4 linked regions of the Homo sapiens genome follow. The protein of the gene in region 1 purifies or fractionates together with the protein of each later gene. This does not show direct contact. Each region holds a gene or a part of one and is shown on either strand. Other genes may lie near its edges.

Evidence for each region. The genes of interacting proteins can lie anywhere in the genome.
Region 2: the proteins of RPUSD3 (region 1) and SARDH purify together in Homo sapiens (affinity purification with mass spectrometry; one large-scale study listed by BioGRID and IntAct). This does not show direct contact.
Region 3: the proteins of RPUSD3 (region 1) and NDUFAF7 purify together in Homo sapiens (affinity purification with mass spectrometry; 2 studies listed by BioGRID and IntAct, with this or other methods). This does not show direct contact.
Region 4: the proteins of RPUSD3 (region 1) and LIN28B purify together in Homo sapiens (co-immunoprecipitation; one large-scale study listed by IntAct). This does not show direct contact.

The regions. Positions count from the first base shown.
Region 1 is NC_000003.12:9,837,349-9,841,008, forward strand, and holds the end of RPUSD3 (mitochondrial mRNA pseudouridine synthase RPUSD3), read right to left. Parts: intron 3,458-3,660; coding exon 3,350-3,457; intron 3,269-3,349; coding exon 3,184-3,268; intron 2,988-3,183; coding exon of another isoform or gene 2,960-2,987; coding exon 2,836-2,959; intron 1,824-2,835; coding exon 1,684-1,823; intron 860-1,683; coding exon 668-859; 3' UTR 501-667; downstream 1-500. UniProt on the Homo sapiens protein: Catalyzes uridine to pseudouridine isomerization (pseudouridylation) of specific mitochondrial mRNAs (mt-mRNAs), a post-transcriptional modification necessary for their translation.
Region 2 is NC_000009.12:133,696,853-133,700,352, forward strand, and holds part of SARDH (sarcosine dehydrogenase, mitochondrial precursor), read right to left. Parts: intron 1-3,500. UniProt on the Homo sapiens protein: Catalyzes the last step of the oxidative degradation of choline to glycine. Converts sarcosine into glycine.
Region 3 is NC_000002.12:37,238,158-37,241,657, reverse strand, and holds part of NDUFAF7 (protein arginine methyltransferase NDUFAF7, mitochondrial), read right to left. Parts: intron 81-3,500; coding exon 1-80. UniProt on the Homo sapiens protein: Arginine methyltransferase involved in the assembly or stability of mitochondrial NADH:ubiquinone oxidoreductase complex (complex I).
Region 4 is NC_000006.12:105,079,107-105,081,469, reverse strand, and holds part of LIN28B (protein lin-28 homolog B), read right to left. Parts: 3' UTR 1-2,363. UniProt on the Homo sapiens protein: Suppressor of microRNA (miRNA) biogenesis, including that of let-7 and possibly of miR107, miR-143 and miR-200c.

The DNA of each region.
Region 1 (3,660 bases):
CACATGCCACCACACCTGGCTAATTTTTTTTTGCATATTTTGTAGAGACAGGGTTTTGCCATGTTGCCCAGGCTGGTCTTGAAATCCTGGGCTCAAGTGATCCACCCACCTCAGCCTCCCAAAGTGCTGGGATTACAGGTATGAGCCACTGAGCCCAGCCACCATCTCTACAAATTTTTTTTTTTTTTTGAGACGGAGTCTTGCTCGGTTGCCTAGGCAGTGGGTGTGATCTTGGCTCACTGCAACCTCCACCTCCCAGGTTCACTGCCTCAGCCTCCTGAGTAGCTGGAACTACAGGCGCGTACCACCACACCCAACTAATTTTTGTACTTTTTGTAGAGACGGGGTTTCACCATGTTGGCCAGGCTAGTCTCGAATTCCTGTCCTCGTGATCCGCCCACCTTGGCCTCCCAAAGTGCTGGGATTACAGGCACAACTCAGCAGTAAGCAAGATCCGTAATAAACATTTACTTTCTTAGCAAATCCTCAAAACCATAACATGAGGTAGGAACTTTTATTATCACAAGTCCAGAGAGGTAAAGTTACTTGCCCAATGCCACACAGCAAGCAAGTGGCCTGTCCAGGATGTGATCTTAGGTTTGTCTGACTGCAGAGCCCCCACCCTCACTTTCCAGTGTGTGTGAGGGGGTCAGGAACAGAGGGAGGACTATTGTAAGCGGAGCCCCAGGCACTGTAGGGTCCTGGAGAAATAAGGGGGCAGTGGTGCCAGGAGCTCAACAGGGGTGTCCCTGGCCCTGGTGCCTGGGAGAAGGAGCCGATGTAGGTGGAGGTGCAAGGGCAGCTGGGCAGCCTGGGAGGGGGTCAGGTGGAGGCGTCTGAGGAGGGCTTCATCCAGGACCTGGAGCGGGAGAGGTACGTTGTGTTCAGCCCCACATTTTCCAAGCAGCTGAGTACCCAGCTCTAAGGGAAATGGGAGTAAGGCGGGCGCTTCCTCCATTCCCCACTGTTCTGCAACTGTTAATCATTTCCTCTTTGCACACAGATGTGCACATTCACACAGGCACTCACACTGCAGCAGAGACTGGCTAGGGGGTCACCCAATCAGTTTCCTCCTAGGCACACACCTCAACTCCATTTCCCAGCCCTCTCACAGCTTGGTGAGACGTGAGTGAGCTCTAGCTGAGTGAATGTGGGTGGCAGTATGTATGCCACTTCCACACCTGGCCCAGAAAAACCTTATCCACTTGAACCTACACTGTCTCCCCTCATCTGGCTGGGTATCAACAGCCTGGGTCCCTGAGTACTTAGTGCTTGAAGCAGAGCCCACTCCCATTATTTGACCTTAACATGAGGGCACAGTTCTTGTGTGAAGACTCTGGTAGTCTGGGCTTAGTGTGTTAGAGCAGGTAGAGGCATCTGGTGTCCTAATACACGCATGCCTTTGACCCTTTGTACCAGACTCAAAGAATGGCAGACTTAAGAGGGCTTTAGAAATTAGCCACATCAACTCCCTTATTGAACACATGGACAGAATGAAGCCCAAGAGAGTGAGTGTTACTTGCCCAAGGCCACACACCAAGATGTGGGTACGGATACAGCCTTGGGAGCCAAAAGGGCTGCCTCCCAGTAGTCCCAAGCTGCACAGATAAGGTCTGGAGATGCTGCCCATGCTCACCTCTCCCTCCACCCCTCAGAAAGCAGCAGGCAGGTGGGCTGGAGTACCTGTCTTTGGGGCTTGTTGTTCTCAGCTGGCAGCAGAAATCGCTGGCCCAGGACAGTGCCCACACGGGCAGAGTACATGTGGTCCCCAAGCACAGGGCAGAGCTGTAGTACCATGTGCACCTGTAGTTGACTGGAGAACACTGGGCAACAGGAAAGCCAGGAGAGACAGTGGGCAGCTACTCGTTCTGTGCCACCCAGTATCACTCCTCCCCTTTTCCTTTGGGGAAACACCACCCCCTTTCTCAGATCATATGTTTCAGTGAGGTCAGTACTATGGCCCCTGCATCCAGAGAGGGACACATAACACGTCAGGACGATCACAGCTATCAATCTGCCTGGCTGTGGGATCCACTCATGATGAGATGCAACCCTGATTTAATTGCTGAAGCCACCGGGCCTAAGGACTGTTCTTTCCTGTTGGGGTGCTAGCCTGAAGCTGCCTCCTCTAGCTGGGCCTGGTCACATACACCTCTGGGGGCCATCAAATGCTCCCCAGGCTGCTGCTGATACCACTGTCTCCCCAGCTCCTTGCCTCCCTAAGCCAAGTGCAGTTTTTTTTTTTTTTAGCCAGCGTTTCACTCTGTCTCCCAGGCTGGAGTGCAATGGTGTGATCTTCGCTCACTGCAACCTCTGTCTCCCAGGTTCAAGCGATTCTCCCGCCTCAGCCTCCCAAGTAGCTAGGATTACAGGTGCGTGCCACCAACTCCAGCTAATTTTTGTATTTTTAGTAGAGACAGGGTTTCACCATGTTAGCCTGGCTGGTTTCGAACTCCTGACCTCAAGTGATCCATCCGCCTTGGCCTCCCAAAGTGCTGGGATTACAGGCGTGAGCCACCGCGCCTGGCTCAAGTGCAGTTTTTTTTTTTTTTAGATGAAGTCTCCTCTATCACCTAGACTGGAGTGCAGTGGCATGATCTTGGCTCATTGCAACTTCTGCCTCCCAGGTTCAAGCGATTCTCCTGCCTCAGCCTCCCGAGTAGCTGGTTTTACAGGCGCCTGCCACCGTGCCCAGCTAATTTTTGTAGTTTTTAGTTGAAACAGGGTTTCACCATCTTGGCCAGACTGGTCTTGAACTCCTGACCTCGTGATCCACCTGCCTCAGCCTCCCAAATCAAGTGCAGTTTTAAAGGCTGGCTAGGGTGCCAGACCTACCTGTCAGTGGCTGCAGCTGGACCAGGGCACAGCCAGAGCCTGTGGCTACCACACGAAAGTGACTGAGAGTCTTCTTGACACCTTCCAGGATGTCCTTTCGGGATGGGGCCTTCACTGGAACTGTCTGTGGTGCCAGCCAAGAGTGAACAAGCCTTACACAGGTCTGGGAGCTATACCCAGACCCTCCCTGCTCCCAATAGACTCCGGGCAGGGCCACAGTATAGGCAGTGGTCACTTGCCTGTTTTAGGGGACAGGAGAGCCAGCCATCCCAAATCCATACCCCTGACTCCTCTCTGTAGGGGTACTATATCTAGAAGCACCCCTCCTCTTCCCAGACCCGGACTCACGAGATTGACCCCATCAATGTGTTCCAGTTTCAGGGCAGCCTGGATCTTCCCCTCAGAAGCAGCTGGGATCCCATCAGTGACAGCACTGAGAAAGGGGCAGGAGGAGGTCACAGGGTGGCTTGCTGGGACCTCCCCACCACTCTAGGAACCTCCCAGCACCTCTCACCAGTAGGTGGCTGTGGGCCTTTGGGCTCTCCGTGCATGGGTGAAGTACTTCTGGAGGCGACTAGCTGTCTGGGGACAGCTGGAGAGGAGTACAAGCCCAGAGCTTTCTCTGGAATAAGCAGACAAATCACACAAGTTAAAGTCCCTTGAACTCGCCCACTAAAAAGGAAACTCTTAGGAACACTGACCTGCTTCAGGCCAAACACTAACACCAGGACTATAACCTAGACCAACTCCTGAGAAACAAGTAAGGTTTCCCCTTCTTTGATAACAAGACTATGTAGCTTAATGTGTTTCTCATTTTGCCCCGGC
Region 2 (3,500 bases), on another chromosome or scaffold:
TGTATGTGCTTGCATTACGAAAGAAGATCTCAAATCAATAGCCCAATCTTCCACTTTGAGACACCAGAAAAAGAGCATAATTAAACCCAAAGCAAGCAGAAGGAATGAAATGTTAGAACAGAAATAAGAATCGAAAAATAGGAAAAAACAGCAAAACAAAAAGTTGATGTTTTGAAAAGATCAACAAAATGGACAAACTTCTAGCTAGAGTGACAGAGAAAATGAGAGGACTCAAAGTGCTAAAATCAGGAATGAAAGACAGGAGATCATGCCTACCCCACAGAAATAAAAGGGATTCTGAGGGAACTCCGAACACGTGTATGCCAACAGACTAGACACGAAATGGACAAATTCCTAGAAACACACAAATTACTGAAACAGAATGAAGACATGACAAATCTTAATAGAACTAAAACAAAAAAGAGATGGAATTCGTAATTGAAAAATTGTCCACAATCCCAGGTCCAGATGGCTTCCCTGATGAATTTTACCAAACAGTCAAAGAACTAATACCCATTTTTCCCAAACTCTTCCAAAAAATATGAATAGGAAATACTTGCCAATTCACTCTAGGAGGCCAGCATTACCCTGATGCCAAAAGCAGAAAAAGATATTATAAGAAAACTACAGACCAATATTTCTTACAAATATAGATACAAAAAAATCCTCAACAAAATACTAGTAAATCAAATCCAACAACATAGGAAAGAGATTACACACCATGATCAATGGGATTTATCCCAGGAATATGAGGTTGGTTTAACATTCAAAAATCAATTGATGTAATGCAACATATTAAGAGAACAAAGGACAAAAACCATCTGATCCTCCAACAGATACAGAAAAGTATTTGACAAAATTCACCCGTTCATGATAAAAACGCACAACAAACTAGGACTATAAGGGAGCTTCCCTCAGCTGATGAAAGACACCTATAAAAATCACATTGCAAACATTATACTTCATGATGAAAGATCAGGAACAAGACAGGGGGGTCCATTCTTGCCACTCTATTCAACATTGCACTGGAGGCTCTAGCCAGGGCAATTAGGCAGGAAAAGAAAAATAAAAGGCATCCAGATCAGAAAAGAAGAAATAAAAACATCCCTATTTGCCAAAACAGTATCTTGTATATAGGAAATCCTAAGGAATCCACTAAAAAAAAAAAAGAAAAAAAAGAAAAAAAACTGTTAGAACTAATAAAATAGTTCAACGAGGTTGCAGGATACAAGGTCAATATATAAAAACACACAAAAAACTATTGTATTTCTATATTAGCAATGAACAGTCTCAAAAGGAAGTTTTAAAAAATTATATTTGTAATATCATCAAGATAATAAAATGCTTAGGAATAAATTTAATTAAAAAGTCCCAAACTTATATCCTAAAATCTAGATTTTTTGAAAGAAATGAGAGAAGACCTAAATAAGTGGAAAGACAGCCCATGTTCATGAAACAAAAGACTTACTATTGTTGAAATGACAAGATACCCCAAATTGATCTACAGACCTAACACAGTCCCTATCAAAATTCTCAGCTGGTTTCTTTGCAGAAATTGACTAGCCAATCCTAAAATTCATATGGAGATTCAAAGGGGCCAATAATACTCAAAACAATATTGAAAAGGAAAAACAAAATTGCAGAATTCACATTTCTTGATTCCAAACTTGCTATTAAAATACAAAGCCACATAATCAAGACAGTGAGGTACTAAATAAGAATAGACCTATAGATCAACGGAATAGAATTGAGAGTCCAGAAATAAGCCCTCATCTTTACAGTCAATTGATTTTCAACAAGGGTGCCAAGACAATTCCAAGGGTAGAGCAATCTTTTCAACAACTGGTGCTGGGCCAACTGGGTAGCCACATGCAAAAGAACGTGGCTGGACCCGACCTCACGCCATGCAAAAAAAATTAATTTTCATGGATCCTAGACCTAAGTGTAAAAGCGAAGATATAAAACTCTTAGAAGAAAACATAAATGTTTTTTACCTTCGGTTAGGTTCTTAGACATGACACCAAAAACACAAGCAACAAAACAAAAACATAGAGATGAATTGGACAGCATCAACATTTTAAAAGCTGCAAACAATGCCATCAAGGAAGAGAGATGACAACCACAGGATGGGGAGAGTGTGTGCACATTACAGATCTGATAAGAGACTTGTAACTAAACTATAAAAAAATTTGCAACTCAATAATAAAAAGACAGTCGGCTGCGGTGGCTCATGCCTGTAATCCCAGCACTTTGGGAGGCTGAGGCGGGTGGATCACCTGAGGTCAGGAGTTCGAGACCAGCCTGACCAACATGGAGAAACCCCATCTCTACTAAAAATACAAAATTAGCTGGGCGTGGTGGTGCATGCCTGTAATCCCAGCTACTCAGGAGGCTGAGGCAGGATAATTACTTGGGAGGCTGAGGCAGGCAGATCACCTGAGGTCTGGAGTTTGAGACCAGCCTAGCCAACATGGAGAAACCCCATCTCTACTACAAATACAAAATTAGCTGGGCGTGGTGGTGTGCACCTGTAATCCCAGCTACTGAGGAGGCTGAGGCAGGAGCATTGCTTGAACCCAGGAGGCGGAGGTTGCAGTGAGCCGAGATCACACCATTGCACTCCAGCCTGGGCAACAAGAGCGAAACCCTGTCTCAAATAATAATAATAATAATAATAAGACAAATAACCCAATTTTAAAAGGGACAAAGGATCTGAACAGACATCTCTCCACAGAATATATGCAAGTGGACAACAGGCCCATGAAAATGTGCTCAACATCATTAGTTGTTCCAGGAATGCAAATCAAAACCACACTGAAATGCCATTTCACAACCACCAGGATGTCTAGAATCAAAAAGTCAGATAATAATAAGTGTTGGCGAGGATGTGGAGACACTGGAACCCTCTCGCACTGTGGTGGGGAATGTAATGTGGTACAGTTACTTTGGAGAACAGTTGGCGTTCCCCCAAAATGTTAAACAGAGATACCACTTGACCCAGGCCTCGTTATATACCCATAAGAAATTATAACATACATGCATACGACACCTGGTACGTGGATGTTCACAGCAGCACTGCTCATAAGAACTCAAAAGTGAAAACAATTCCAATGTCCACCAACGGATCAATGGATGAGTAAAATATGATGGGTCCATACAATGGAATATGATTGGGATAAAAAGGAATGAAGTGGCCTGGCATGGTGGCTCATGCCTGTAATCCCAGCACTTTGGGAGGCCAAGGCAGGTGGATCACCTGAGGTCAGGAGTTCAAGACCAGCCTGGTCAACATGGTGAAATCCCGTCTCTATTAAAAATACAAAAATTAGTTGGTCATGTTGGCCTGTGCCTGTAATCCCAGCTACTTGGGAGGCTGAGGCAGAAGAATCGCTTGAACCTGAGAGGCAGAAGTTGCAGTGAGCCGAATTGCACCCCTGCACTCCAGCCTGGGGCAACAGAGCAAGACCCCATCTCAAAAAATAAATAAATAAATAAAAATT
Region 3 (3,500 bases), on another chromosome or scaffold:
TCACTTAATTTTTGGCTTACCTCTACCAGATGTACTGAAATGTCACAATTTTTCAGCACAGATCCAAGTTGAGTGAACACCTAAATACCAAAAGAAGAAAAAAAAATACAATGTGTTAAGTAGGTTTTAAGTTTCCTAATCATTTACATCAATGATTTAGTCATGTCACAATAGAGGTAATATTTCAGAGAGATGTGTTCCTTACCCAAGCCACTCTCCAGCAGTCTATAAGAATCCTAACCTACTAGTTATTAAGCATAATCTAAATAAGAAATGAACAATGCACAATTTGGTTTCCTAATGATAAATTATGATTAACAAATGAAAATAAAAGATTTGGCATCTGATAAAAACAATGATTCAGATTATGGAGTCTAAAAAAAGACCAAGGAAATAAAATGTACACAGCCTTGATTTGATAACATCTCTAGGTCTAGGAAGTAATCTCATCTTTGAGATGATGAGAACTCTAACCTCAAAGAACCAAATCTGAATGGTACTGAAAACCTGACTGCTTAACTCGGGGGTCTGCCACATTTTCAATCTATATTTAGCTACACATTTTTTCACTGTTGTAAACATGCAAGGGAAAAAGGAAAATACTAATATTTTACCAATCTTTTAAGGCTAAAAAATCAATAGCAAAAGCATAAAGTGTATCAACATTATTTTTCATTTGAATTTAATTTCTACTGGTGATCTGCCTCCAATTAATACTTTTGAGATATGAATATGCACATCCAGACTGATAATATGAACAAGATGATTTTTCCAAATTTAGTTTTGAGATCGAAATACAAATGGAAAAACTTCCCAGGAGAAATTCCTTCAGAAGGTAACATCAAAAATAAAACAGGTCTGACACTTCTCTGGCTATTTGCTTTACAACCCTTTAAATTCTTTGGCTTTTAGGACTTCTTATGACTCAGTCTGGAAAAGCATCCTTCATACATTTTAAGGGCTCTGGAATCAACTTTTAAAGTACTTGAACAAGAGAATATGATTTGAGGTCCTTATTAAATATTTTATATTCAAATGACCTTGCTGAAAAACATAAAATAGAGCCCTGGAAATTTAAATTCGTGATTTTGTTTTCTTTCTTCACCCAAATAATCAAGATTCTTATTTGTCATATGTTTATATATTTTATATATTTTTTAAATCCTTTAATTTCTAATTTAAAGCAAAAACCATAAAGCATCAAGAAATTTAAATTTATATTGAGTATGTGTTGGTGTTTTTTGGTTTTTTTTTTGAGACAGGGTCTCACTTTGTTACTCAGAGGCATAATCACAGCTCACTGCAGCCTCAACCTCCTGGGCTCAAGCAATCCTCCCATCTCAGCCCCTCAACTAGCTTCGACCACAGACGCATGCTACCACGACTGGGTAATTTTTGTATTTTTTGTAGAGATGGAGTTTCACCGTATTGCCCAAGCTGATCTTGAACTTTGGGAGCCTCGAACTCCCAAAGTGCTGCGATTACAGGCATGGGCCACTGCGCCCAGCCATGTTTGTTTTTTACATTGAATTGTCAAGTACATATAAAATAAACTCAAAAACACTAATGAGTTCCAAAATACTAAAAACTACAAAAGTTTAATAAATACTATTACTTATCAGGTACTATAAACAACTGTCCTCCTTTTTAATGTTTTCATAAAATAGTACGTAGACTGATAGAAACAATGATACAAGAGAGAATATCTACCATAAATGGGACATGACCTTATCTCCAAAGCCCCTGTGGACTCCCTCTACCCTTGGAAGTCACCACCATTCTGAATCTTGAGTTAATAACACCCTGACTTTTCTTTATAAATGTTACTAAATATATTTTTATCACCAAATACATATTGTTTAATGTTGACTATTTTTTGGATTTTATATAAATACAATCATATGATACGAACTCTTGCAAACTGCTACTTTCACACATCTTGTTTCATGTTGAACACTGTTATATTCCACTGTGATTTCACGCATTCTTGCAGTACTTCGTATTCCACTGTATGACTATACCACAATTAACTGATTCATTTACCCCCCGATGGGCATTTGTGCTGTTATTTTCCGCTATTTTATACAATGCTGCTATCTTCTTGTATGTGTCTCCTGGTACACATATACACTAGTTTCTCTAGGGTATATCACTAGCAGTAAAATTGCTGGGTCATACAATATAAGAAACTTTGATGTTAATAGATAATGGCCAATAGCTTTTCAAAAAGGTTGTACAAGGCTGGGTACGGGGGCTCATGCCTGTAATCCCAGCACTCTGGGAGGCCGAGGCAGGCGGACCACTTCAAGCCAAGAGTTCAAGATCAGCCTGGCCAGCATGGTAAAACCCCTTCTCTACTAAAAATAAAAAAATTAGCCGGGTGTAGTGATCCACGCCTATTATCCCTGCTACTCAAGAGGCTGAGGGACAAGAATCGCCTGAACCTGGGAGGCAGAGGTTGCAGTGAGCCAAGATCGTACCACTGCACTCCAGCCTGAGTGACAAAGTGAGACTGTGTCTCAAAAAAAAAAAAAAAAAAGAGAAAGAAAAAAGGATGTACTAAATTATAGTTTTACAAGCAGTATATGAGAGTTGCCATTGATCCACAAATCCACATCTTCACCAATACTTGGTGTTGACAGACTTTTAGCTTTTTTTTCTAATCTGGCAAGGGTTACAGTAGTATCTCATTGTGATTTTAATTTTCATCTTCCTGACTACCAATGTGACTAATCTTTTTTTTTTTTTTTTTGCTTTTTTAGCCGTTTGTATTTTCCTCTTTTATGAATGGACTTGTTCACATCTTTGGCCTGATTTTTCTCAAGTTATCTGTCTTCTTACTGACCTAAAGGAGTTATTTAAATAATTCTAACTACTAGTTCTCTGTTGGTTACGTGTTACAAATAACTTCTCCCACTCTGTGGCTTGTCTAATCACTCTCTTAATGGGGTCTCTGAAGAACAAAAAGCTGCTAGTTTATTTGTAGAGCAAGAAGTTTTTAATTTTAATGTAAGAAATGAAATATTAATCTTTTGCTTTATGCCTTCTGCTTTTTTTTTTTTTAATATAAAAAGAGACGAGGTCTTGCTTTGTTGGCCAGGTTGGTCTTGAACTCTTGGCCTCAAGCAATCCTCCCACCTTGGCCCCCCAAAGTGCTACGATTACAGGCATGAGCCACTTTGCCCAGCCTAAACTTTTTTTTTTTTTTGAGACGGAGTCTCGCTCTGTCACCAGGCTGGAGTGCAATGGCGCAATCTCAGCTCTGCAATCAATCACTGCAGCAATCACTGCAACCTCTGCCTCCTGGGTTCAAGCGATTCCCTGCCTCAGCCTCCTGAGTAGCTGGATTACAGATGCACACCACCATGCCCAGCTAATTTTTGTATTTTTACTAGAGACGGGGTTTCACTATGTTGGTCAGGCTGGTCTCGAACTCCTGACCTTGTGATCTGCCCACCTTGGCCTCTCAAAGTGCTAGGATTGAGCCACCATGCCTGGCC
Region 4 (2,363 bases), on another chromosome or scaffold:
CATACAGGTGTGCTATGTATCAACTATGAGGTAGCCTTTTGCTGTAAACAGAGTAATATTTTACCTATGTAAATGAACAATGTGTTCACATCAGTGATATTCACATATGCACAGAGTTGAGGGAATCTGCTTTAGAGGAGTTTTCACATGAAATAAAAATAGGATAACTGATATCTGATATTCAAAAATTTTGATCTGTGTCAAACTCAGAGGTAGTTACTATCATCAGTACATAATACTTATATAAAGGTATAAGTTATTTGGTTTGTTTTGAGTAAGCAGGACTGTAGACTAGTCTGTAAAGAAACAACAAAAATATTACATGGTATGTTCCCTGAGCAAAGTTCTTTGTCCTGAGTATGTTATGTAATAGTGATAATATTCTCATATAAAAAATAAACCCCAACTTTCAACCATAAGATAGGTTTGGTATGTGCTCTTAGTTTAGTCTGGTAAGATGATGAAAAGGATTTCAAATTGCACCCATAAAGACCATAGTTCTCAAGTGTTTCTATTTTTTTTTACCATGATTTTAGCTCTGAATTTCTTTTTGTAAACAGGAAGTGTCCAATTTTGAAGTCCATAATTTCCTATTTCCATAAGGTGAAGGAACTTTGGTTTGAATTTTCAAAGTGACTTATCTATCATGTTTTGCATTTTTACTGTTAACCTGCTTATTATACCTGCTAAAAATTGAGCAACGCTTATCATGTTTTGCATTTTACTGTTAACTTGCTTATTATGCCTGCTAAAAATTAAGCAATGCCACTTTGATTTGTCTACATAATTTAAATAAGTTTGAAATCCTCACATAAGGCAAGGAAGTACTTCTCTACAGCTATATCACATTCAATATCGTCAAAGGTAAGCTTTGCATCACAGCACACCGATATTTCAGTGTATACCACGCAGATTCTCACAATCACTGTTGTGAAATTCAAGCTGAGTTGTAAAGGACTGGCAACCCAACCTGAGGCATTTTCGTCTTATGGTGGTTTGCTGAAACAGCAGCAACTATACACGTCTCCCATGACAGGACAGGCGGGAGAGGAAGTAGAAACTGTTCAGCAGAATATGTCTCATTTGAGTCATGCTATTTTTATTTAATTATCTGAGCTTACACCAACAGGCCCATACATTATAATTATAATGCTTAATCTTATTCCCAATATTAAGCACTATAATTAACTGGTACCTTCTTGCAGATGTTTCAGAAATTTGCCCATAACATCTAGAGCCAGGATGACCCCAAAATAATTTTTTTTTCCATGACCGAAACCTAACAGGACCAATACTATGGCCCCTAGCCAGTTTATCACTCTAACGAGAACCAACCTGAGAAGATTCTCCCTGGCACTGAATGTTCATCCTGTATCCACCATATAGGTTACTTCAGAATAAGCATTGAAGGTCACTTCCATAAGATCAAAGTTACTGTATAAAATACTTCTAGCTCTCTGGTGGGAGAGGTTTGGTACCTCTGCCCCAGGCTTGTCACTCTTGTTAACTGCCACTAAATGCTGCACTTTTTCGTATCATTTGCAGGTCATATATATTGGGCAACTGTGAACATCCACTTAATTTTAATTCTCAACCCCAGTATTTAATTCATTTCTTTGCTGCTTGTTTGTTTTAGAAACAAATTAGATAACTCTCCAGGAGGAATAAAAACCACCACCAAAAATATATGCCAAACAATTGGAGTTCTCTAAGGTCTTCAGTAGTAAATAAGGAGGGCTCCCTGCTCTAAGCAATGGGTAGAAGATTGAGTTAGCCAAGGGAAGCTGCTGTTGCCACACAATCCCTTACAACCCTCACAACATGGAAAAGGTTACAAGAAGCTGATATTAAAATACTACTGAAAACAAGCCACTAAGATGATCCTCCCCTTCATTTCTCTTAATAGGCATCTAATTTTACAATTAAACACAGAATTTAAAACAGTGAAATATCGGCCCAAATTACACATTCATTGTCTTTTCTGGAGTTATGTTATCCCAGAATCAAAAAAGCTTATGGCAGTCAGAGGCATATGAAGTTAAGGTACTGCCTTCAAAAAAGGGGGAAAAAAATTACTACTCCAGAGATTTCAAGAAAAAGAGGCAATCCCAAATTCGGGAGAACTGGATGTCTTAAAAACCTTTAGTACCCCATAATTGGCAGCTCTGAGATCTGAAGTATCCTTTGGTTCACACAAAAGGTAACAGTCGTGTTTTTAGTTTTATATAATATAAAAGAAGTGGTATTTCAAGAAAACTCCAGTGGGTTAAATTTAAAACTATCTATAATGCTTCACATGGGTTTTCAATTCTTGGAAATATCCAATTATATGAGAGAGGGTGTGTGCTTTGATCTATACACAA